Homo sapiens: one gene and its partners. The protein of the gene in region 7 purifies or fractionates together with the protein of the main gene of each other region. This does not show direct contact. Each region holds a gene or a part of one and is shown on either strand. Other genes may lie near its edges.

Region 1 (4,274 bases), on a different chromosome or scaffold from region 7:
CGGGATACAGGCGAAATTCCACACCCTCCCTCTTCTGAACTTTCACAGGAGTTACCCTCAACTGACACCTCCTTATGCGCTGCACAAGTGATTCGTGTCTTTTGCTCCTTCATACCCTCCCACAAAGCCTACACAGAGCCATGCAACTGTCAGACTTTAATAAATATTATGATTGACTAGTAAGTAGGAGGATGAAAGAGAAGAAACAGAGGCTAGTCATTATACTCCAGCAGTATGTCTATTTTTTAAGAATGGTTTGACATTCAGGATAGGCAAAGCAGCACTGCCTACTTAATTCCCTTAGAAAAGTCACCTCCCTTGGCCTGCAGCGTTTAGCAGGCTGACTCATTCCAGTTGCTCTGCCAGTCTTTTTTTTTTTTTTTTTTTTTTTTGAGACGGAGTCTCACTCTGTTGCCCCGGCTGGGGTGCACTGGCAGGATTTCCGCTCACTGCAACCTCCACCTCCCGGGTTCAAGCAATTCTCCTGCCTCAACCTCCTGAGTAGCTGGGACTACAGGCATGTGCCACCACACCCCGCTAATTTTTGTATTTTTAGTAGACACAGGGTTTCACCATGTTGGCCAGGCTGCTCTCAAACTTCTGACCTCAGGTGATCCGCCCGCCTCGGCCTCCTACAGTGCCGGGATTACAGGCGTGAGCCACCACGCCCGGCCGTGCTCTGCCAGTCTTAAGAGGAAATTCCTGGTCCTGCACACTCAACAAAAGCAGAGAGCAACTTGGCAGGACAGACAGCATGCTGGGAAAAGGAGGCAGTGGCTCCGGGATCAGAAGTGGCGGGATTTTTTGTTTCAGTCTTGCAACCAACTTTCATTGAGCAATGACATAGTGGAGGGCGAATAAGATCAAAGGGGCTGTACTTGGTATGGAAAAACCACAGAAGGGTGGAAGCTAAGCACCTTCGCCTTGAGAGTTGGGTCCATCCATACCTGAAATGGACCCCTGTGGACCCTTGACGAACAGGGCAGTGGCCTAGACATTCTCGTGTGTCTGTCACTCACCAGCTGGGGACTTTGTCAACTCATTCCTCTGTCTAAACCTCAATGTTCTGCTCTGGGAAATGAAATCAAAACTGTTAGTCCTCCCTCCCAGGGTAGTTATAAGAATTAGATAATATGTGAGTGAGTAAGCATTCTAAACACCATATAAATGTGGCTAGAAGTATTATTCACCAGTATGATCTAGTATTTTTGGCCCTCCTCTTCCCCTAAAGCGGAAGTAGGGCCGGGCGCAGTGGCTCACGCCTGTAATCCCAGCACTTTGGGAGGCCGAGGCAGGCGGATCACTTGAGGTCAGAAGTTCGAGACCAGCCTGGCCAATACGGTGAAACTTTGTCTCTACTACTAATAAAAAATTAGCTGGGTATGGTGGCACATGTCTGTAATCCCAGCTACTCAGGAGGCTGAGGCAGGAGAATCGCTGGAACCTGGGAGGCAGAGGTTGCAGTGAGCTGAGATCGTACCACTGCACTCCAGCCTGGGCGACAGAGCCAGACTCCCTCTCAAAAGAAAACCCAAAAAAGCTGAAGTAGGACTACGTCAAAGGCCCACCTGGGCAGGCTGGTCCAATACAGGACAAGGGACCTAAAGATAGATGGTATTTCATTTGGACCTGCAAATGAGTAAGAATGCCAGCTCCGGGTCTATTAAAAACCCCGCTCGGATGTCTCCCACAGGCAGAGCTGAGGTGGGGCCTTGCCTGAGGCTTCCAGGGATGCGCTGGCTTCCCTTCCAACCTCCTTTTCAGACAGCTCTGCCCATTCAGCGGTTCCTAATGCAGAAAGAATGGGCTCCCCGGAGCCTGCCGGCTTCCTTACAGGTCACCGCTAATGCCCTGTGACAGGCCCTTGGCCCACCCTGCCAGGCGGGCCTGGGCATCCTCGCGGCGGCCCATCCCTCGGGGCCGATTCCTCCGCAGCCATTAACAAAGGGGGTCTGGGGACTGCCTCGGAACTAGGGGGCCGCGTGGAGTGGGATGTCTAGGCCAGGGCCCGCCAAGGAGGAGCGGCCGGCTCCCGCCTCCGGGCCTGGGCAGGCAGCGCTAGGGGCCGGTCGGGAAGCACGAAGGAGCCCGGCCGTGGGTCCGGAGGCCGCAGTCGATGGGGACAGTTGCGGGGCCGGGGGTACCCACCTTCTGCTCGACGCCCTGCAAGCCCTGGCCCAGCTCCTCCCTCTGCCGGGAGAAGTCCTGGTGGCTGCGCCGGACCTGCTGGACCTCCTCCAGGACGTGGTGGACGCACCAGCCCGAGAAAGCGGCCGCCGCCACCAGGGCGAGGTAGAAGAGAAAGTTGAGCGCCCTGCCGAGCCTGCGCGAGCAGGACGCCGAGGACGAGGCGGCGGCGGCGGCAGCGGCGGCGGAGGCGGAGGAGGAGGAGGAGGACTTGCCGCCGCCGCCGCCGCCGCCGCGGTGGCCGCCCTTGCCGTGCGCCTGGTTCTGCGGGTGCTGCTGCGGGTGCTGCTGCGGGTGCGGCGCGGGCGGCGGCGGCGGCTGCTGCGGCGCCGGCGGCGGCTTCTTCGCCACGTCATCCGCGCCGCCCGACGGGTGGGCACCCTTCTCCGAGGGGCTCGCGGCGCCGTGGCCGCCCTTGGAGCCCCTTTGTTTGGCCGAGGGCATGGCGGGCGCGGCGGCGGCTCGGGCCGCGGGCTGGGAGGCGAGCGAGCGCGGCGCGCGGCCCGGGAAACTTGCAGGGGCTCCCCCGGGACTGGGCGAGCGGCACGCGGGCGCTGCTGGCGTCGGAGCGGCGAGAGGACGCGCGGCCGGGGAAGGAGGCCGGGCCGAGGAGGCGGGAGGAGGGGGCCTGCCTCCGCCGCCGCGGCGCCGACCCCGCCTCCCGGTAAGGGAGGCCGAGCGAGCCGAGCCGGGAGAGCTTGCCACGCACGCCGGCCCGGCGGCCCCTCCTCCCCGCCGCCACGACCCCGGAGAGGGAGGGCCGGGCGGGGTCTACGGGGGCCGGGAAGCCGGCGCGGGGGTGGCTGGGCGCGGGGCGGGGTCCCGGCGGGGTCTGCGGAGGCCGGGGTGGGCACCGAGGTGGCCGCGAGGGGAGGGGAGAAGAGCGGAGCGGAGGGGAGGGGACGCGGCCGAGGTGGGGCTGGCGGCCCGGCGGGTTCCACGCAGGCTGGGGGCGGAGGGCCAGATCGACCCCAGCCGGGGCGGCCGAGCAGGGTCCACGGGGGTCGGGGATGGGCGGCCAGGCGGGGTCGGAGGGACGAAAGCCGGGGTGAACCTGCGCCGCGGGCCAAGCGCGACCCCCTCCCTTCCCGACCTGTGCGGAGAGGAGAGAAATGAAGGGGGGCGCCCAAGGAGCCCTGGCCCCGGGAGTGGGAGTCAGCGGGTGGGAACAGATCGCCCTTCCTTTCCGCTGGGAATTGGGGGACTCCCCCTGCTTTCACTCTCCCAGCCCGCCATGGGGTTGGGCCTTGTCCTTTGCCTTGGGTTTGAAGGCGGAGACAAAAAAGGCTGTCCAAAATCCAGCCAGCTTGGGAGGCATGGTTGATGCGAGTTAGCAAAGATTCTCGACTGTGGTAAGTCTGTTCAAGGGGACGCATTCACCAAGTGTCCCCGTTAGCCAAGTTAGCCTGCTGTGGCCAGCTCTTTACTTTTTCCCCCCGAAGCCCCTTCAGCTCTGTTTTCTCTTTCGGGGTCATGAAGTTTGTCCACGGCCCCTACTCCTGACAGCCTCTGGGATGGGTGCTGCGGAGGCAGCAGCAGCCACACAGAAAGAGGCAGATCAGCGTTGTCACCCCTACTTTTGTAAAAGGAAATCTGGTATTGCCAGGCTGTGTGGTTAGCGACTCACATATGTTCTCGAAATCTCACAAAAGCCCTGTGAGGTAGAAATTATTTTACCCATTTTATAGGAAGGAAATTGAGACTGAGCGAGCCGGCTTCGGATTGGCTCAAGGTCACATATAGTCATCATTCGAACCTCACTCAGTCTGCTTCTTTCTGAAGTCTGTGCAGCTTAATCACTTCAGAATGGGAAGGAAACGGGGGCCCAGGGAAGTTAAGCAACTTGCCCACTCACTCAGTCTAATTGGTGCCGGGGCAGGGACAGAACTCACTCAATTCCACTGCTTTCCCCAGTTTCTGGTGAGTGATGTGTGCCTGGCACTGTGTGCACCTGGCACTGTGTGTAGTAGGAATGCTGTTTCTTCTGTCTGTAACCTCCTCCCAGTTCTGTAAACAAAGACAAAACCATGCCCTGCCCTTAAAGCCTATAGGGTTCAAATGCCACCTCTTTGATGATGCTTTCCCTA
Region 2 (3,500 bases), on a different chromosome or scaffold from region 7:
CCCACCTGGGAGGCCTCACGCTCAGTTCACAGCCTCACTCACACAGGGCTCGCCCGGCACAGGCAAGGACTTGGTGTGGTCCCCTGGGTAGCCTCCAGAGGCTCTGGTCTCTCCTGGCACTGATCAGCTGGGGTACCTAGGGCCCAAGGCTGTGGGAACCTGGGTTTGGGGAGCAGAGGGCACAGCCACGGAACAGTTCAGGGAAAGCCACGCAGGATGGGAAATAAATATGAAAAGACTTGAGTCTTTGGCAGTTCTGCTTCCCTTGGATGGAATAGGGAGGGTCCCGGCAGGTGAGTGCGGAGGGTCAGACAGGCCAGCAGGTGGCAAGTACTGAGCCGTGGTCAGGGGTGGCCTCCTACCATGCTGGCATCAGGCTTGGCTCTGCAGGCTGGCTCATCGCTTCTGATGGGTGAGGGCAACACGGTGTCGGACTGCACAAATCCCCTCCGGTCAATTAGGCTTCCAAAACACAAGGGAGACACATGAGGGCTCTGCCCAACACTGAGGCTCTAGGCCAGGGGTTGGACGGCAGAGTCTATCTCAGCCAAGGAAAGGCCCAGGCTGAGAAAGGCTGAGGAAAGGAGAGCTGCTGCCCATCTGGGGGCCCAAGACTCTTACCTCTGGCAGGCCTCTCTCTGCCCTCTGGCCACCTGGCTTTTGGCCACAGAATTTATTCACTATTAATTCCAACTGGCCCACCTGTCTGGCTGCCAAGAAGCCAGGCTGCAGGTGAGGGAGGAAAGCAAGGATGAATAGGTATTTGATGACTATGAAATTCCTATGTTCCCTTCCCCTCTAGGCAGGCTGGGTGACAGGGATACTGGGTGGGGTAGGTGACATGACTGTGTGGGAATGACTTGTCTTAGCAGTACCCACAGCAATGTAATCCCCGTTCTGGAACTCTGGTGCCCCCTGGTGTCAGGATGAACAGGGAGTGACCCAGCAGGGCTGAGTCCCCAGGGTTCCTACTGCCAGGAGAGGATGGAGTCGCCACCCAGTCCAGGCAGTGGGCAACCGGAAGGGCAGTGTCATTCAAACATGGCTGAAACAGTCATGGTGGCTACCCCCGGGGAGTAGAATTACATGTCATATCCAATGCTCCTCTGTTTTACGTTTTGTACTTAATTTTTTTTTTCTACAATGAGCACGTGATTAAATAACAATTCTCCATGGAATTCCGTCACATGACAAATGCCCTCCAGGGGGTAGTGGACGGAGGGCATCTAGGGTGTAGGGGGAGGTCGGCTGATATCCAGGAACACTTTGATCACTGGCCAGGCATGGCCCTGTTACCCCTCTTCCGCACCCCGCTCACTTACCTGGGAGGTAGGGGGCCACAGAGCACAGCACAGCAGTTGGTGATAATACTTTTATGGCTGTAGGGGTTGACAGAGGCCTCACCGCCCCTCTTGCTGGACCACGAGCCTTTGATCTGCAAGCAGGAAGGAGGCCTAGGTCAAGTACCTCCTTTTGCTTCACTTTTCTAGGAGGCAGGTCTAGAGGCTGGGGACAACTGGACAATTCCGAAACCAATTCTGGTTACAGAAGGCGACATGTCTTTCATGTGGGCCATTCAATGAGAATGTGGGGGACCCCTGGCAGAGATCAGGAGGCCCCAAAGAGGAGATGACAGAGCAGAGCCCAAGAGAAGCATCCAGAGGAAACGTTTCGGATGACTCCTCCCTTCTCCGGCCAGCCACTTCTGAAGGAGGGTAGCGCAGGGGCACAGGGTGAGGGCTGACCTGCCTGTGAGCCCCGGCCCTGCTACTCACTGGCTACGTTACCTGGACAGATCACCACTTCGCTGAGCCTGAGTCCTCATTTGGAAAACAGGGAAAATAATACTAATTCTCAGATGACATTGCTAGGGCATTAGATTAATTCTTGCCAGATTCTCTAGCTCTGTGAAGTCAGCTATGGAAGGCACTGGAGAGTTTAGCAATAAAGAATACCTTGACTTTAACCTAGAGTTTTCTACACTTATTTGGCCACACACTCCTTTCTCTTTAACCTCTGGTAATGTGCTGCAGAACTGGCACCCAAGAAGCTACTGCGGGAGATACTGGCTGATGGCATTTCTGTTCTCACTGATCACCAGGCACACAACGCCCTGTCATGTGTGAAGTTTTGTTTCCCTGAATGAGAGGATGAGGTCTGGGAATGTATTTTCTGTTGGAGGATGGGTTGCTGGTAAGTATCAGATGGTGGGCCCTGAAACAGATGCTCTCATTTACTTTTTAGTGTTTGGAGGATGGGGAGGAGAAGTCAGGTCTGGCCTAGGACTGGGCACATCAAACATGCTTGTTGATGGCAGTCTGCAGGGTGGCAGGCAGGGAAGGTCAATGGAGCCCACTGGCCTGTGCCCTGTCTCCCCCAGGCGTGCATATTGAGAGGGGCAGCCAGGACAGGCCAGTGCCACCTTGAGAATAGTCACGGCTTTGCTGCTGACAGGGGCAGTGTGGAAGAGGGAGCGCATACCTGTGACTGGGCACCAACCTTGGCTCTGTCCCCTCCCAGCTGTGTGACCTCTCAGACATGGGACATGTCTCTCAGTCATCGAATGGGGAAAAAACATCCCTGTCCTTTCTGCCTCAGGCTTGGCAAAAGGACCCAAAGAAATGACGGGAACTGAAAGAATTCTGTAAGCGGTCATGTGCCAGCCAAACATCATGCGTGCTGTGGTGTGAGTACTGCCTCCTGCAGGGCTGTGGAGAAAAGCAACCTGGGACCTTGGGAGCCTGCACTGAGAGAATGAAGCATGTGGAGGTGTCAGAAGCCTGCATCGGACCCACCAGGGCCAAGCTGAGATGACTGGGAGGCATCTGGCTGCTTAAAAGGCATTATCCCAGCAGTCCGTGAGTCAGGACTGTGCTTGGCTGCCCCAGGCTCCCTCAGCCCTGCCTCCTCCTGAGGGCGCTGCCCTAGAATGAGGGGTGGCTCCAGGTTTACTCACGTCTTCATTAGTAGTCAGGTTGGAGGCGACGAGGTACGTGTGAAACCCTGAGAGGCCCAGAATGGACCAGATGGAGAAGAAGCAGATCACCAACTCCAGCACGGTGAGGGCAGTTAAGGACTTCAATGGGTGGAGGGTGGGGAGCCTCCCAGCCACACCTGGCCTGTCTCACCTATCCTTCCATGGAGCTGTTTCCCCAGAGAGCTGAGAAGTTTTGGAACCTTCCTGTGGCCCAGTCCCCACTTCTTAGCAGGATCACCTCCTGGGCCCCTCGGAAGGGTCAGGACCCCACTCAAGAGCCAGACAAGGTCAGGGTGATGGACGGCAGAGAAAACTGAGGGTTCCAATCACAAAGAGCCTTGGGCACGACACGGTCCAGGGAGCTTGGCATCTTAAGGGACATACTCTTTTCCAGGCCCCTGAAGACGAGGAACCCCCGGCCCCACAATGCCCCATTTAGGATCAGCTCTTGCCTGGGTGTGAACAGAAGAGCTGGCATGTTGGATTCTGGAGGACACATGTGAGCTGTACGCTGTTCCCTTCT
Region 3 (3,500 bases), on a different chromosome or scaffold from region 7:
TCAACTCCAATCTTGCCCCTGCTCCACACTTATTTCACCTAAGGTCTTCCTGAACTCAGTAAATCTTCAATTCCATCCTGCCATTTTATCAGATCAAAACAATTGGCATCATCCTTAATTCCTCTTCTCTTTCCTATCATACATCTGATCCATCAGCAAATTCCACTGGTTCCACCTTCAAAATATATATAGAATCTGATCTCAATTCAGCATCTCTTCCCTTGGGTATACATATAGCTCCCTCACCTCCTTGAAGTCTCTGCTTAAATGTCATTAAGTGAAGCCCTCCTTGATCACCCTATGTACAACTGCAAGCTCTAGCTCCTGCATTACCTGCTCCACTGCACTTTCCACTGACATATTAAAATATTTTACCCACTTAAATTTTGTCTTTGTCCCCTCCCTCCACAAATGTAAGCTCAAAATCTTCTGTTTACTTGCCATATCCCCAGGGCCTAGAACAATGCCTCAAAGAATGCCTATAGAAGACACTCCTCAATAAAAATAAAATTTTTTGGATAGAAAAATATTTTCAGACAGTTACAGCAAGAATGCGTTTCCCATAAAAAATCTAATTTGCAAAAAATATTTTGGAAGTATGGAAATATATTCGGAAGTATGGAATACATTTGGATTTGGAAGTATGGAATACATTTGGACTTGGAAGTATGGAATATATTTGGAAGTATGGAATATATTTGGAAGTATGGAAAATGAAACACATTTTCCCAACATTTACAATGCTACAAAATTTCAAATACCTTTCTTGTTTCAGAATTATTTCTTTTATCAACTATTTCAGAACTACTACATTGGGAACATGCAATACTGTTTTAATTTAATCAGCATTTTAATTTGCTCTTCCATACAGGAAGTTAATACTTACTTGACGATGCCATATCCCAGACTGACTATGATGACCAGGGTTCGAGCCAGTGAGCGTTTCACTGCTGAAAGCAGCTCTGCAAGGATCAAAGCACCCTGGACTATGAAAAAGAAGGGAAGAAATGGCACCATAATCTAGGTTTGGCAACAGGCCAGATGCCAATACTAGACTGCTGCTTTCTACACTCTTCAGAATAAGCATTGATATTAGTCCTGCTAAAATAGAATACCTCTTCCACAGTTTTTACAGGATACAAGCTGATGCCACTCACAATCTTACTCATGTCTATGTATGGCAATCTGGGTGCGCTCAACTCAGCTCCCTCCCCGACCTGGCCCCAAATTCACTAAAACTTTAACAGAATACCTCACCCTATATGGACAGTTTGTAGCATCGAGACAATTTCCCCCATTTTTAAAAACTGTGAAATACAGCTACACATAGAAAAGCACAAAACACACTCGTGTACACGCTTGTTGGCATGTACAGCTTAACTTTTTTCAGATCTACTATTTTCAAGACCTTTCAAAGACCAGGGAAAATCTTATCAGTTTATCTCACAATAATAATTATGACTAAATTAAATGGTCTGACAAGAAAAAACTGAAGCAATCACAAAAAACTACAGTATAAAACAACTTCTGTCATTACCAGTTCACCTTACTAAACCATAAGCACTCTCCTATTTTCTTGATATGACTATATTTTATCAGTTAGATGCACTTTCCCACCACATTTTGAGGTTTTTTAAATCAAGGTGTGTCTTACAATCAGTGACATTTTACAATTAAATTGACAGCTTTACTTTTTTTCTTAGATGTATAATGGTGCCTTAGAAATCAACAGAAATTGAGATTTGATGTTAATAATCATTCCCAAAATGGTCACTACTGTTGTGACTTTTGTGAGCATATTTCAGTAAAATTAGTCTTACATCACTGAACTCATAAGATTAAAAACAAAAGTCAGAGTCATAGTGATTCTGCTTAAGATATTGTAATAATTAAGTAATTGAAAAGTTAAGCCTATGTAGTGACTGCTGACCTTAGGAATATTTTCATACATCTCACCTTCCAACCACTCGAACTGGCAAAGATTTTCTGGTTACTTACCAGATTCTCCTTTGTATCGGATATTCTGAAATTCCGCATAGAAGACAGCTTTCTCAAGCATTCCCAGGAAGATGACAGCACCAATCCAAAACTGAATTCTCAGGAGATCTCTCCAGTAGCAGGCAGACCATGCCAGCCACAGAACACCAAACAGGACATATACAATACACATCACCATGAAAAACTGTTATCAAATTGGGTAAAAGATAAAAAGGAGAATTAGGGCCAAGAGCCAAGTCTGTAGATTTAGAATCAATATATACTTTTTTTTTTTTTTTAAGAGATGGGGATTTGCTATGTTGCCTAGGATGGTCTTGAACTTCTGGACTCAAGCAATCCTCCCATCTCTGCCTCCCAAAGTGTTGGGATTACAGGCATAAGCCACAGCGCCTGTCCTGAATCAATATACAGTCTTAACAAGTTACAAAAATATATTCTACCTTCTAGTTAAGAAATAATTCTTCCTTTGGAGCTTAACATTAACTAATATGAAAGCATTATCTTGTCTTGAGCAGAGAAGACTACATATGAACTTGTCCTCAAGAGCGAATGCTCTCATATGTATATATATATATGTGTGTGTGTGTGTGTGTGTGTGTGTGTGTATGTATGTATCACATATGTATACCATATAAAAGGTGCTCTCTATTATACACACAGACACATATATGGTATATATAGAGAGCACTCAGCCTGCTCTCCTATAGTAAAAGAGCTTTTTCTGGTCAGGCGTGGTAATTCACACCTGCAATAGTGCTTTGGGAAGCCGAGGCAGGAGGACTGCTTGAGGTCATGAGTTCAAGGCCAGTCTAGGCAACATAGCAAGACTCTGTCCCTACAAAAAATAAAAATTAGGCCAGGCATGGTGGCTCATGCCTGTAATACCAGCAATTTGGGAGGCAGAGATGGGCAGATTACTTGAGGTCAGGAGTTCAAGACCAGCCTGGCCAAAACATGGTGAAACCCCGTCTCTACTAAAAATACAAAAATTAGCCAGGCATGGTGGTGCGCACCTGTAGTCCCAGCTACTCAGGAGGCTGAGGCAGGAGAATCGCTTGAACCCAGGAGCTGGAGGTTGCATTGAGCCAAGATCGTGCCATTCCACTCCAGTCTGGGTGACAGAGTGAGACTACGTTTCAAGATAAAAAATAATAAAATAAAATAAAAATTAGCCAGGCATAGTGGCACACGCCTGTTGTCCTAGCTGCTTGGGAGGCTGAGGTGGAGGGTAGCTTCAGCCTGGAGTTTAAGGCTGCAGTGAGCCATTATCCATTATCATGCCACTGCACTCCAGCCTGGGAGACAGAGTGAGACTCTCTTTTTTTTTTTTTTTTTTTAAAGAAGGAGCTATTTCAGCTCACGATCTAAAATTATATAGATGAAGACAACACTGAAGAAGAAAAATGGCATGATGATTAGGATACATCTAGAGGCAAGGAAACACAACAAAACGGGAAAACTATTAAAGGGAAAGGAAGAAGAGAATAATCATGAACAAAGAA
Region 4 (3,500 bases), on a different chromosome or scaffold from region 7:
GCGAGCGGGGATGCTCTGGTGGACAGGCAGAGTCAATTGAAAGAAACTTTGGAGAATAACTCTTTCCTCATCACCACTGTAAACAAAACCCTCCAGGCGTATAATGGCTATGTCACGAATCTGCAGCAAGATACCAGCGTGCTCCAGGGCAATCTGCAGAACCAAATGTATTCTCATAATGTGGTCATCATGAACCTCAACAACCTGAACCTGACCCAGGTGCAGCAGAGGAACCTCATCACGAATCTGCAGCGGTCTGTGGATGACACAAGCCAGGCTATCCAGCGAATCAAGAACGACTTTCAAAATCTGCAGCAGGTTTTTCTTCAAGCCAAGAAGGACACGGATTGGCTGAAGGAGAAAGTGCAGAGCTTGCAGACGCTGGCTGCCAACAACTCTGCGTTGGCCAAAGCCAACAACGACACCCTGGAGGATATGAACAGCCAGCTCAACTCATTCACAGGTCAGATGGAGAACATCACCACTATCTCTCAAGCCAACGAGCAGAACCTGAAAGACCTGCAGGACTTACACAAAGATGCAGAGAATAGAACAGCCATCAAGTTCAACCAACTGGAGGAACGCTTCCAGCTCTTTGAGACGGATATTGTGAACATCATTAGCAATATCAGTTACACAGCCCACCACCTGCGGACGCTGACCAGCAATCTAAATGAAGTCAGGACCACTTGCACAGATACCCTTACCAAACACACAGATGATCTGACCTCCTTGAATAATACCCTGGCCAACATCCGTTTGGATTCTGTTTCTCTCAGGATGCAACAAGATTTGATGAGGTCGAGGTTAGACACTGAAGTAGCCAACTTATCAGTGATTATGGAAGAAATGAAGCTAGTAGACTCCAAGCATGGTCAGCTCATCAAGAATTTTACAATACTACAAGGTAAGTCAAAATTCTGAATTTGTATTTGTATTAGTTGTTTATTGCTGCATAACAAGTTACTCTAAAACTTGGCAATTTAAAACAATAAATATTCATCATCTCATAGTTTTTGTGGACCAGGAATTCAAGAGCAGCTTAGCTAGATGGTCCTGACTCACTGTTTTTCATGAGGTTGTGTCAAGATCTCAGCCAGAGCTGCAGTCATCTGAAGGCTTGACTGTGGCTGGAGGGTCTGCTACTTAAGTGGCCTGTTCACATAGCTCTTGGCAGGAGGCCTCAGTTCCTTGCTGTGTGAAATTGCTTGAGTGTCCTCACAATGTGGCAGCTGGCTGCTGCCAGAACAAGGAATTCAAGAGAGAGAACAAGAAGGAAGATACCATGACATACTAGCCTCAGAAGCCACACACCATCACATCCACTTCATTCTGTTTCTTAGAAATAAGTCACTAAGTCCAGCCCACACTCAATGCAAGTGGAATTAAGTTCCACATCTTGAAAAGAAGTGTAACTAAGAATCTGTGGACAGTACTTAAAGGGACTCCATTAATTATTTGTTGAGTGAAAGGTTGGTTAATTTGAATTTTCTTGGTCCTTGAGCTATTTCAATGCAATATAAATCAAGCTCCTCTGAAAGCAAGATCAAGTCTTTTGGGTCACAAAGCTACCATTAAGGGAGTTACATGTCATGAGTAGATGAATGGTTGGCCATCACAGTAACACAGAGGTCACAGTAAGGTCACAGAGGAAGGAAACGATGTGTCTTGCTTATAAAATCTGAGTTTTGGTAGGTGTGCTGGCTCATGCCTGTAATCTTAACACTTTCGGAGGCTGAGGTGGGAGGATCGCTTGAGACCAGGAGTTTGAGACCAGCCTGGGCAACATAGCAATATCCCATCTCCTAAATAAACAAATAAATGAATGAATACATACGTATAATCTGAATTTTACTGTTATCCAGATCATCCATATAAATTAAAAGTCCTTGACTCAGACTAAGTCCACAGTTGAAGAATTGTAGCATCATATATTAACAGTATTTTCCAGTCACAAACTATTTTCACAGGTTTTAAGTTGAAAGTACTGGTGGAAGATGCTGTGCTCAGCAGTCTGGGGTATACAAATGAAACCAACGGTCCTCACCCTTAGGGAGTTTAACATAAAGAGAATTTCAGGGCATCAGAAGATGGGCTGTAAGCAAACATTCAAGGGGAAGGGATTACACAAGGGCCTGAGTCACTAGGGGCCACCTTGGGGTATGTCCCCCACACTGGTCTAATAATCAAGGGTAAAGAGTGGTAGTTAATAAGCCCCTGTGAGGCTGAAGGCAGATCCGGATAGCAGATGGCAGGACTCTGTTCAATAGCTTTGTCAGTGACTAGCATGGATGACCTGCTAAAGCAATGCTTGTGTGACTTGAAACTGTATATGCCAGCCAGTGGCTGATAGACTCATAATCCACAATGATCTAGAGAGGCCAGGATAGTATCAAGATGTCAATCAAATGAAGTAGATAGGAATACATGTAAAATCCTGCTCATAAATGGATGAGACAAAACAGATAAATGTTGATGGGAAGGCATGGCTGGAAGGAAGTGTGCATGAAGCATGGGGATTTTAGTTGACTGGAAGCAGTGAAATATGTCTTCCAGGGAAGGGAATGTGTTCCTTGACTGTGGACTGTGTTAAGAAAAAGGGAAGTAACATCTGACTCTGTTCAGTATGCCAAGACCACCTCTGGAAGATAATGTTTACTTTGAGTAGCCCCTTTCAAAAGAGACATTCCCAGACCAGCATGCTCAGAAAAGCAACATCAGAATGATAGGGGCTAGAAACCACGTACTGTGAGGAAGGGTTGAGGACCTGGGAGCTTTCACCCCTAGGAGAGCCTGTTCAGTGGAGAACAAGACAGCCATCTGCACTTATTTAAAGTTGCTCTGTCTGAGGAATGCCACTGGGTGAAACAAGACTAGTGGGTGTTCACTAAGGGAAGATCAATTTTGGTTTTACAGAATGTTCCTCATAAAATGGGTATTAGCTGAAAATATAATGGCTCCCCTACTCAATCAGGATGCCCCAGCTCTGGAGGGGCTGGACAGTTGCAGGTCAGGGATATGGTAGGTGTGAGTCTTACTCTGAAAAAGGGGTAGCCCTTCAAATGATTTAAAAAAAAATTCTTAGACAATCTTATCATGGTATTCTGGATATTTTCTAGTTATTAATTTTATAGTTTTATTATTTCATTAATTTAATTGTTACCTTGTCTTCAGTTATTTAGTTTATAGACAGCGTGGCTTATCAGCCAAGTAAGGACATGAAAAGCTAGTATTTGAAGGTGAGACCCTGAGTGTTTAAGTTAATGTTTCTATTGTTAGGATTCTTTTATCAGCTAGTATTGAAAGTGAATGTACTGAGCACTTTTCACCAACGTCCCAATGAATCCTGACAGCAGCTCTATGAAGCAGCTACTTACAATGTCATCGCCAGTTTATAGACGAGGAAATTAAGGCTTAGAAGGTTTGAGTAACTTGCTGAGGTTTACACAAGTAAAAAGTAGCTCAGTGGAATCCGAGCCCAGGCCGTCTGGTGCCAAACC
Region 5 (4,056 bases), about 76 Mb from region 7:
AGAAGGCCTAGAGAAGACAGAATTCAGCCAGGAAAGAAGCTCTAAGATAAGAGCTTCTTCGAGATTCTCAGACACAAACCCACTCCCCCAGCCAATACCCCACACTCACTGGATCACCTGGTCCATCTGGCTAAGTTTCTTGGCCATTTCAGGGTGGTGAGGGCCATGCTTGTGGCCACAGTGGTCCACACCCAGGAAGTGAGCAATCAGCACGTCCCATTCACCACTGTCCACTGTGAAGGGGAGAACACTGAGCACAGAAGACTAAGACCCACTCCTCAACCCCAGCCAGGCTTTGACACTCCTCTATGTCCAGGGATACAAGCCCAGGCTGTTACACCCATAGGTGGCTCAGAATTTGTGGACTAAAGCAGTTCTCCCCAGCTCCCAGTCTTAGAACTAAGTGCTCTGGCCCCATGCTCACTGGTGGGGTAGAGGTGTTCCAGGATGCCATTGTCCACTGTGTCTAGGTCTCTGACATTGAAGGATGGGAAGAAGAAAGCTTTGGAGAAAGCACCAGGGAAAAGGTCTTTCCAGGTATCATCTCCCATGAAGACTACACGCCTTCCTGCAGGGACATGAAAGAGAAGTCAGAGCCTGAGCAAACGTCAGGGTTAGGAGAAAAGAGGAAAAGAGGCCCTTTAAAGACCCATCAGAAGTCCCAACCATGCAACCTAAAGTACAGCAATTCCATACAGCAATCCTTATCCTTCAGGGCCTAACATTTTCCACCAGGAAGCTTTCCCTGATAACCGTACTCCACCCAGACCTCACACTTATCCTTCCTACAAAATGCTCTCCTAGTTCTGTCTCTGGGTATCTCTACTGAGTTGTTTTTCCTGGGTGTATCCTGCTTCTTCCCAGTCAGTGAATGAACAGGGCCTGTATTTCTCTGCTTTCTTCTCCACACTTGCAAGCCAAGATCCACATCTTCTCTTCTTCCCTTCTCCCTTTTACTGAGAGGTCTCCAAGAATAAAACTTACACTCCATTCAGATTAGAAGCTTCATAGGAACAAAGCCCAGATCCCTTCTCCTCTGTCTCCCAAACTGAGCTCCCTACCAGCAGGGCCCTGGCCTCTTTCTTCTCCTCTGTCCCCCAAACTGAGCTCCCTACCAGCAGGGCCCTGGCCTCTTTCTTCTCCTCTGTCCCCCTACACCATAATCAAGTGTGCATCTGGGCACCCAAAGGTCTGACTCCCTGACTTCAAATTTTGAAGAAATTTGCCAAGGTACTTCTGGCCTTCAAAGTGGCCCACACTGACCTGCACTGGTGAGCTGCTTAATGAGATTGTCTTCCACTATGGCGTGGCTGGCGAAGTTACTACCAGCATCAATAAAGGTAGGCAGTGAGCCAGTGGTGAGGGCCTTGAGGCGCTGCATGGTGGTGGTAGGAGGGTCAACCTGAGATCGGTAGAGCCGGGCATGGTGGGGCTGAATCTCCAGGATCCTCTGCAAGGAGCTTAGTTTGCCCAGGAAGGGTAGGGAGACAGGAGGCTCTCTAGGCACGTGTGAATGCTGGGGCTGGGCGAAGTCAAATCGCAGAGCATCTATCAGCACCAACACAACCCGCGAAAATCGGGAAGCCATCCAGCAGGCCCCAGGTTTCCCTTGGCTCCCCCATGGCAGGGACCCAGGGCCTGGGGGCTCTTGGCAGCTGCTATGGTTGGTGAGCTCCAAACGGGTGAGCAGGAAGCCACTGGTGAAGAGGGCAATGCCAGCGTAGAAGAGGAAGCAGACCCAGGCCAGGAAGAGCAACACTGAGGCTTTCTGCATCCTGATAGGGGTGGGGAAGTAAATTCATTACTGTGGGGCAAAGAACCAGTGGATATTCTGGTCCCTGAATACAAGCCCAGCTAGAATCACTTCCTCCCGGAAACCTTCCTGGAGATAAACCATTTCACAGCCAACCCCTCGCAATATTACTCTCCTCCTATTTCCAGGCTGGGCATGGTGGCTCACGCCTGTAATCCCAGCACTTTGGGAGGCCGAGGCGGGCGGATCACCTGAGGTGAGGAGTTCGAGACCAGCCTGGCCAAAATGGCGAAACCCCGTCCCTACTAAAAATACAAAAATGGGTGGCGGGCACCTGTAGTCTCAGCTACTGGGGAGGCTGACGCAGGAGAATCGCTTGAATCGGGGAGGCGGAGGTTGCAGTGAGCCGAGATTGAACCACTGCACTAGAGTCTGGACAACAGAGGGAGACGCCGTTTCATGAGGTCCCACCCCAGATCTACTGAATCAGGATCTTCGAGGGGTAGAGCATAGGAACGTTCACATGTACAGGCAGGAAATGCTAATGCTGCCTGTACATGTGAACAGTCAGGAGGGAAACTTATTCCAATTGGTAGTCAGGCTCTCTTACACGCCGTTTCTGCGCCTCTCCCCTCGCCAATCTCAATACCCAGTGGAAAGGGATCGAAGCCGCAGGGGAATCCGGGCCCAGCCGACGGCGCCGCCTGGCGGGCACCGAGGGGACGAAGGGGAGGAGTCACTCTCCGCTTCCGGGCGGCCAGGTTCGCCAGGAGACCTGAGGCACGACCTTCGCCACGCAAGGAGGCTGGGGCCCGGGTCGAGAGTCGACTGGGCCTCCGCTGGGACCCAGGCGTGCGACCGGCTCTGCCTCCTCCGGTAACTACCCAGCCTCCCGCTGGGCACCCTAGCCGCGGTACTGAGCACCTTGGTTAGGAGCTGAGGGGAAGAGGGAGACTCCCTTACTTCAGGGTGAGGGGAATACCGGGGGGTGAGGTTCTCGGGAGACCCTGGCTCACCTGCAATGGCACCCGGAAGTGCGGCGGCGGCGGCGCCTGCGACCTGGCAGCACAGAGATGCGTGCGCCAGACAGAGTGGCCCGTCGGTGGCTCCATCGCCATCTGCCGGCACCTCGGTGGAAGTTTGGCCAGGAGCGTGGGGCTGGCCCCAGTTTGATGGGATATTTAGTAATTGAAAATTGGGGACAGGGGACCAAGCTGGAGGAAGAGTTCAGGGAACCACTGTCCATTCATGGTTACGACTAAGAGCACGGCTGCTGGAGTCAAACTTGACTTGAATCCTAGCTTGGCCGCACATATTGTCATCATTAGGCATTACCTCATCTGTAAAATGGAGATAATACTTATTTTCCCTTTTTTGCTTAGCTGAGTCCAACTGAGATTTCATTACTCCTCCTTTCAAAGCCTGTAACTAAATCTTACGACTGAATAATTAAGCAAATAATCCTTCGGAGTGGAGGAGGGGAGGCTGGGCCCAGTGGTTCACACCTGTAATCCCAGCACTTTGGGAGGTCAAGGCAGGTGGATCACCTAAGGTCAGGAGTTCAAGACCAGCCCGGCCAATATGACGAAACGCCGTCTCTACTGAAAATACAAAAGTTACCCGGGAGTGGTGGCGGGCGCCTGTGATCCCAGATACCTGGGAGGCTGAGGCAGGAGAATCACTCGAACCCAGGAGGCAGAGGTTGCAGTGAGCCGAGATTGCACCACTGCACTCCAGCCTGGGCAACAGAGCAAGACTCCCTCTCAAAAAAAAAAAAAAAAATGCCAGGCACGATGACTCACACCTGTAAGCCCAGCACTTTGGGAGGCTGAGGCTGGAGAATCAGTTGAAGTCAGGAATTGGAGACCAGCCTGGCCAACATGCTGAAACCCCAACTCTACTAAAAATTACAAAATTTAGCCAGGCGTGGCGATGTGTACCTGTAGTCCCAGCTACTGAGGAGGCTGAGACTGGACAATTGCTTGAAGCCAGGAGGCAGAGGCTACAGTGAGCTGAGATCGTGCTACTGCACTCCAGCCTAGGCAACAGAGCAAGACTCTGTCTCAAAAAGAAACAAAACCCGTCCACTGGTTTCTCATCTCAGAGTAAAAGTTCTTGCATTGGCTCTACATGGCCCTGCACACTATCTGCCTCTTCCCCTTCTGATTCATCTAGCTGCCACTTCTTTGCTTCCCTAACTCTGTTCCATCCACAGCAGTTCTGCCTCAGGACCTTTGCATTTGCCATCTCCTCTGTCAGCTTCAGTTCCCGATGCCGAAATGGATCTCCATCACCTTCATATT
Region 6 (3,137 bases), on a different chromosome or scaffold from region 7:
TTCGGTCATGTGTTTTTCATCTTTGTATCCCTAACACATAACAGTACTTGGCATTTGTTAGTAATCAATAAGTGTACCACATGACTGACTAGTCTTCTTTTTACTTAACATATCAAAAAGTCTAAACCAATGCTATGTAAAGTAACTAGCCTATGAACTGTTAATAGTTTATAATGCAATAGAATTCAAGTCAGAATGTTAAAAGAAAAAGAAATGCTTCCTTTTTAAGAAAGTCTTGCTGTGAAAAAGTATCTAGCAGAACTAATGCTTTGTGATGTAGCTGATTGACATTCTTGCCCCATTTTGGTTCAAATACTTGAAAGTTGGATGAAGACATTTTCATAAGGAAAAATAAAATGCTGAGGGGAAGGATAGTTAAAATTAACTTTATGGTCTTCATTCATCTTTATAAGCACAAATATTCAGGCTGTCAAACATTTAAACTAAAGACACCTATTTTCACTGGTAAAAAAATAAATACAGACACAGGGCACTTAAAATGTTTTTAAAAAGCCAAGACACATAAAAAAAAACTAATAAATTTTTAATTAGAATTTTTTCCTTTTTTTAACAGGACAAGTAACAGATTACATCAAACTTCAGAACTTCTCAAATACCTAGTTATTATACACATTCCCATCTGTCTTGCAGGGAGGGATCTTGGTCGGCTTAACAGTTTCAGGTAAAATAAGCTGCATAATAGTATATATTACAATAATAAATGTACAATGTTTACATGAAATATGTTTTAGAAGCAAGAAAAAGATGCATCTGCATCAAAGGCGACCTTTTAAAATGCCACAACTATTTTTTACATTCACTCTTGCAACAGGTTACAAGATGGGGGTCACTAAGCTCAGATAAATCACTATGATGCACATAAAATACAGGAAGACTGGTTACTTTATATATTATATATATTTATATTTTCACACGTTAGCATCTGAGACATAAACTGAGAATTTAAAATTTATTCTCTTCAGATAACAAATCATTTTTTATTCTTCATAAACAAGGTGCCCACAAAAGCACACAGGTAAGGCACAATAGGGCTTTCTGTTACAGAATAGTGTGCATCATGTTTACTTAACCAGAAAACGTGCATTATCTGTGCAAGTTCATGCTGCAAACCCAACGCATACAATAAAACAAAAAGGAAACTGAGCTTTAAATACAACCAAAATTTGTACAATTCCAGCTGTTTCACATATTCATTTGGACTGACAATTATATATCAACAGGTTATTTTTAAAAAGCCAATTGTAGATTACAAGTAAAATTTACTCAGCAACTATTTTTATCTGAAATCATAAACAGTAATAAAGTAAGTTTACTGAAACAAATTAAATACTGAGGCACAAAGCAACAGTCAATCGTGCATTTACTATATTGCAAACTTTCATGACCCAAAATTGCAAGTATAATTTGTCAAATACACATTTTGCTGCAACAATGTGCCCTGCTTTAAACTTGACATATAACAGAGGCACTAACATATCATTAAATTATAAATAGATTGGGAAAATGACTTAACCCCAATGGTACTATGTCATGGCCCTAGTATTTATAATAAATACAGCTTTTCACAAAATATTTTTCCAATATCTGCCAATTTCTTCTTTATTGCTCACATAAATTTGACTCTATTACAACTGGTATCAGAACTTTCACACAAAATCATACTCAGACATTTTTATATAAAACCTATAAAAGATATTTTAAACTTGTATCTAATACTTCCAGGTGTTTGGCTGTTTGATCTATGCAAAAGTACAGCCATATGTATATATCTCTGTGTGTGTATATATATACATCTATATATACACACACATACACACATACATATATACACACACATTAGATTATGAATAAAATGGAAAGCTTATTTTACTGCTTTAATGCAGACATCCTCATAAAACAAGACTACTTTCACCACCACCAGCATTTATACATATATACAAAGCCAGTTTAAGTACATATACATCCACTTACACATATTTGTAACCACTAAGCCCAAATTAATTTTCCCATATTCCAGCCGTAGCAAATGAATCGCTTATAAGCAACAGAAACCTAAGGTTAAATTGGGAAATCAACAGTTTTACCACATTAGCCTGTAGGAACTATGCAGGTGACTGTATACAAAAATTCACAACATTAGTTCACAAGAAATTATGGGACTACAAGAAGCCTTTTCATCATGCTTTTGTGTGGTTATCCAAACACTTCTTGGGGCAAAAATACAACCACCACATCTGAAAATGCTTAATAAAGTCAGTGTTCCTCATGCAAAACTTTAAATGTATTGGCTTAACTGAGCTCCAAAAACTGAATGAAATAATTATCCTACCTACTCAGCATTGCTGCCTCACTGCTAAATCCCTTTGGAACCTTAAGACTTCTGGAACGTTCAGAGATGTATTCATCAATAAAAATATTACATACAAAAAGCATTTAAAAAGGAAGACAAAAAGCCAAACAGGAATTTTCCTATTGTAAATAACAGTCTTAGAAATGGAAGAAAATCTTTTCAGGAACTTCCTTGAGAATTGGTTAGGCCAGTCCGAAGACGAAGATGAGACATGGAGTTCATATGTTTATTTGATGGCTTCAATGGAGTGTTGGAAGTGAGAGCCTGGGGAAAGCGATGGTGGTATCTATCTAGTCGTAAATATTTTACTGTAACCAATTTCCCTGTTGTAAGATAAAAATAATATTTTAGATCAGTAAAACTGTTTAATATTTGCAGAAAATTAACTGTGGTAAAAGACATATGAGCACAAAACATAAATAAAGTCATCTAAAATTATTACTCAAAAAAATGCTAACCTAAATTCTTTTATTTGAAATCTGGTATAGTTTAAAATTAAACTATAACTATCTTTTCAAAATGTTTGTAGTACTCAAATTTCTTACCATCAAACCAAGAGCCATGCAATGCTTTAAAAGCCTTTCCAGCATATTCTGGAGACAGACATTTAACATATACACAACCCTGTGATATTAAAAAAGAAAGAAAATAGTCTTAGTTTAATAGCAACAAATCCAAAACATGAAATTCAATACCAAAAGTTACTTTACCTCACGTGAATTTTTGTCTACTGCAATGTGAACAATGCCATCATTATCACTGCATT
Region 7 (3,500 bases):
AGGTAGTATATCAAGGTTTTATATAGATTTACTGAACAAAACAGATTGGAATTAATGATATTCTCTGACAGTCATCTTCATGAAAACTTCCTTATTTTCTATTAATTTTCTATTTGTAGTAGTGGAGGTTAATTCATATTTCAAGGTGAAGAGCAAGATTTGTAGACTCAAATACCTTCTGCTTTTAAATAAGCATTGTTTTTCTTGGATGAAAAATTCATAGTAGTGATCAAGAAGAATATATTCACTTATGTGTGTAGAAGGTAGTTAAAGAGCACCTACTATGTTCTACGCTCTGTGCTGGCTCCATGAAAAGGACAGATACAGACATTTCCTTTGGAGCTGAGAGTAGAGTGAGAGTTTTTTAAAATAATTACCCAATGGAATTATACATTCTCCATAGACTATATTCAGGTTAACGTTTGATCACATTAAAAAATCTTTTTTGAAAACCTTTTATCATTTCATCTTTCCCTATGGAAATTGAAAAAAAACATTTTATCACCTCCTCTTTCCCCACAGAAATTCAATGGAAAGTTCCTATAATTCTCTGTGCTCCAATTTATATAGCATTTTTGGGTGAATGTAACATGGGATTATGTGGCTCCTCTGAAACTCTGGGAATTACCTTAATTTTAGCCACTGGAAGGAGACAGGGTCCTGCTGATCATTATATAAAGTAGTATTCAGATTGATGCATAGGTCTCGTCTGTTTTGGTTAGGATGACTGCATCATGGACATCATTTTCAGCTATACTCATTGTTGACCCTCTTGTAGACCTGTGAGAATAGCAACTAAGCCTTGGGATCACTGACACACCTAAAACCCTGCCTAACTAACTGAAACACTGAGGACCCCATCACCTCAGATATGAGATTGTCTTATTGCATCCAATGAAGATTAGTAGAACTACAAAAATGGTTTCTCTGTATGTTTATTAACAGGACCTTAAGCACACCTGTGCCACAAGGCCACATTTTCCATGATGTGGATAAAACACATCTTTGTTTACCATGGATGCTATTTTTGTATGAAATAAAACATGAGACATTAAATAACATGAGACTTTTTTCCTGTATTGACTCAAATATTTATTTGCTGATGACCTAAATGTTGGTTGACATTTTTTATATGCATGAACTTTTTCTATTACGACAAGTGCTACTCATAGTTTGCAGAATTGCCAGCAGCAAATGACTACTGAACTTGGACTATTAACCTGCCAAGTTCTTGTTTTAATTTTGACCTTTGTATAATATCTTGTGTATTCCAGTGTGCAATGTACTGAATGATTCACATACTTTTGTGCCTCTTTGGGTTGTTTTTCAGGTTGAAATAATCATTTTGAGGCTATAGGAGCTAGTGTTTCAGTGTACATTTGCCCTAAATGCCACTTTCCCATGCCCAACTACTACCACTGCACAACCACTAACTTTAAAATAACAGAAATAATATTTAAACTAGTATACTCCACAAAGATCGAATGCAGTTGACATCTCTGGAATAAAGAGCATGATTTTTAAAGCTGTGAGATGGAAGAACTTTCAGAACATGGAAAACCCCGTCACGGTGATAGGTGAAGGTATTTGGTGAAGAAAGATGGGAATAAGATTGTAATATAGGAAACAGAAATTAAATGGACCGTAGCCTTTTTGAGAAAAGTAGCAAGAATAAGAGAATGGGCAGGATGTGGGCAGGGAGTGGTTGGAAAGTTTAGAATGGGGAAGTCACAATCCTAACAGATGTTTTTCAAGGCGTGGTGCCTAATGCCATTCCTACAGTATGCTCCCCTATTTGAATTGTAAGTGTCCATCCTTAGATAGGCACGGTTACATGGGAGACATGGGTTGGTCTTGTCATAATGTAGGCAAACCCCAAAATTGGGGCTCAGCCTGGGGGAGTTCTTGGCTCTGCCCAGGAAAGAATTCAAGAGTGAACCAACAGTGAAAGAAAGCAAGTTTGTTAGCGTAACAGTGTACAGCCAAGTGACCACTCCAAAGGCAGAGCAGGGCTATCTCATAGGCAGGGTAGCACAGAACAGCACTAATGGATTGCTGGCTAGTTATATTTATACCCATTCTTTTTTCTTTTTCTTTGAGACAGGGTCTTGCTGTATCACCCAGGCTGGAGTGCAGTGGCATGATCTTGGCTCATTGTAGCCTGGACCTCCTAGGCTCCAGCAGTTCTCCCACTTCAGCCTCTCAATTAGCTGAGATTACAGGTGCATACCACCACACCCAGCTACCCAGATTTTTTTTTTTCTTTTTTCTTTTTTTTTTGTAGAGATGGGGTTTTGTCATGTTGCCCAGGCTGGTCTTGAGCTTCTGGGTTCCAGTGATCTTCCTGCCTTGGCCTCCCAAAATGCTGGGATTGCAGGCATAAGCCACCATGCCTGGGCCCCCACTCTTAATGCTAAATATAATTAAACAGGTTATTCATGAACTTCCTGGAAAAGGGGTGGGGAGTTCCTGAAACCATGTAAGGTTAACTTCCAAGTCATTGCCATTGCATTTGTAAACCGTCATGGTGCTGGTAGGAATGTCTAATGCAAATGTATTATGATTCCTGGTCCTTGCTGGTTTGGATTGGTTTCTTTGCTACATCCTGTTTTGATCAGCAGCGTTGTGAAAACAAGTCCTGCTGGTCTCCCACTTCAGTAGGAACAAGAATTCTGGTCTACTCGAAGTTCTTCTCTTTGTAAATTAGTCCATTGATAATCTGGTTATTTTACTTTAGTTTGTGTACATTTGGTTTTTAGTATTTGTCTTCACTGCCAGATTGCCAGGTTTGTGAGGGCAGGCAGGATTGTAATGATTGTTTGTTTTCTCCACGTTGCCACATTGCCTGTCACGGCTATCTGGTACAAAGTAGGTAGTCAATAAATGCTGAGGGAATGCATGTGATGACAAAACCAAGTTTCTCTGCCTTCAAAACTGAAGACCAGAGCCGTAGTGAATTCACTACAGTAAATGCCACTTTATTCAGCTATGTGGGAGCCAAACCTAGCGACACCTTTATGTTCTATGCCTTCTAAAATACAACAGCCTGGAAAACTCCTGGCTACAATGGGTGCTCAGTAAATAATATGTTTGTTTTACTTCCATTTATTCTGGGAATGATTACTCAGTTTCCATTTTCACTTCATCAAAATGATCCCTGGGTTTTAGACCTATTCAGTCTTCATGATCAAAAGAAGAATTTGTTGGTCAGCAACTGACTTGTTATGAGTCAAGTTATATTAAAATAAAGTCATCTTTGAGATTAATAATGGGCAATACCAATGGCTGGTTTTTAAGCATGATCTTGTATTAAGCTGCTTTTGAGTGAGTACTGGATCTTAATAATTATTTTTAGTTGTGAAATACTTATTTGGCATAAATCATGTGCTACCTTAGAAATTAGTATTTGTAAATTACAACCCTATGGCGTATAGGTACTGTTATTGATTTGTTATCCTTATTTTCCAGTTGATAAAAACTGAGGTAAGGAGAGGTTAGGT

The links.
Region 1: the proteins of LPAR1 (region 7) and CKAP4 purify together in Homo sapiens (affinity purification with mass spectrometry; 3 studies listed by BioGRID and IntAct, with this or other methods). This does not show direct contact.
Region 2: the proteins of LPAR1 (region 7) and ZDHHC18 purify together in Homo sapiens (affinity purification with mass spectrometry; 3 studies listed by BioGRID and IntAct, with this or other methods). This does not show direct contact.
Region 3: the proteins of LPAR1 (region 7) and TMEM87A purify together in Homo sapiens (affinity purification with mass spectrometry; 4 studies listed by BioGRID and IntAct, with this or other methods). This does not show direct contact.
Region 4: the proteins of LPAR1 (region 7) and COLEC12 purify together in Homo sapiens (affinity purification with mass spectrometry; 3 studies listed by BioGRID and IntAct, with this or other methods). This does not show direct contact.
Region 5: the proteins of LPAR1 (region 7) and PIGO purify together in Homo sapiens (affinity purification with mass spectrometry; 3 studies listed by BioGRID and IntAct, with this or other methods). This does not show direct contact.
Region 6: the proteins of LPAR1 (region 7) and LEMD3 purify together in Homo sapiens (affinity purification with mass spectrometry; 4 studies listed by BioGRID and IntAct, with this or other methods). This does not show direct contact.

What each region holds. Positions count from the first base shown.
Region 1 is NC_000012.12:106,245,221-106,249,494, forward strand, and holds the start of CKAP4 (cytoskeleton-associated protein 4), read right to left. Parts: upstream 2,801-4,274; 5' UTR 2,632-2,800; coding exon 2,149-2,631; intron 1-2,148. UniProt on the Homo sapiens protein: Mediates the anchoring of the endoplasmic reticulum to microtubules. High-affinity epithelial cell surface receptor for the FZD8-related low molecular weight sialoglycopeptide APF/antiproliferative factor.
Region 2 is NC_000001.11:26,850,688-26,854,187, reverse strand, and holds part of ZDHHC18 (palmitoyltransferase ZDHHC18), read right to left. Parts: intron 3,060-3,500; coding exon 2,957-3,059; intron 1,436-2,956; coding exon 1,323-1,435; intron 463-1,322; coding exon 345-462; 3' UTR 1-344. UniProt on the Homo sapiens protein: Palmitoyltransferase that catalyzes the addition of palmitate onto various protein substrates, such as CGAS, HRAS and LCK. Acts as a negative regulator of the cGAS-STING pathway be mediating palmitoylation and inactivation of CGAS.
Region 3 is NC_000015.10:42,235,434-42,238,933, forward strand, and holds part of TMEM87A (transmembrane protein 87A isoform 1 precursor), read right to left. Parts: intron 2,183-3,500; coding exon 1,999-2,182; intron 987-1,998; coding exon 887-986; intron 1-886. UniProt on the Homo sapiens protein: Potential monoatomic ion channel gated by mechanical force, implicated in normal touch sensitivity through the generation of mechanically activated currents.
Region 4 is NC_000018.10:343,702-347,201, reverse strand, and holds part of COLEC12 (collectin-12), read left to right. Parts: coding exon 1-907; intron 908-3,500. UniProt on the Homo sapiens protein: Scavenger receptor that displays several functions associated with host defense. Promotes binding and phagocytosis of Gram-positive, Gram-negative bacteria and yeast.
Region 5 is NC_000009.12:35,093,792-35,097,847, forward strand, and holds the start of PIGO (GPI ethanolamine phosphate transferase 3, catalytic subunit), read right to left. Parts: upstream 2,801-4,056; 5' UTR 2,364-2,800; intron 2,186-2,363; exon of another isoform or gene 2,088-2,185; intron 1,776-2,087; 5' UTR 1,775-1,775; coding exon 1,264-1,774; intron 569-1,263; coding exon 425-568; intron 234-424; coding exon 110-233; intron 1-109.
Region 6 is NC_000012.12:65,245,719-65,248,855, reverse strand, and holds the end of LEMD3 (inner nuclear membrane protein Man1), read right to left. Parts: coding exon 3,082-3,137; intron 2,996-3,081; coding exon 2,917-2,995; intron 2,695-2,916; coding exon 2,531-2,694; 3' UTR 501-2,530; downstream 1-500.
Region 7 is NC_000009.12:110,937,471-110,940,970, reverse strand, and holds part of LPAR1 (lysophosphatidic acid receptor 1), read left to right. Parts: exon of another isoform or gene 1-1,059; intron 1,060-3,500.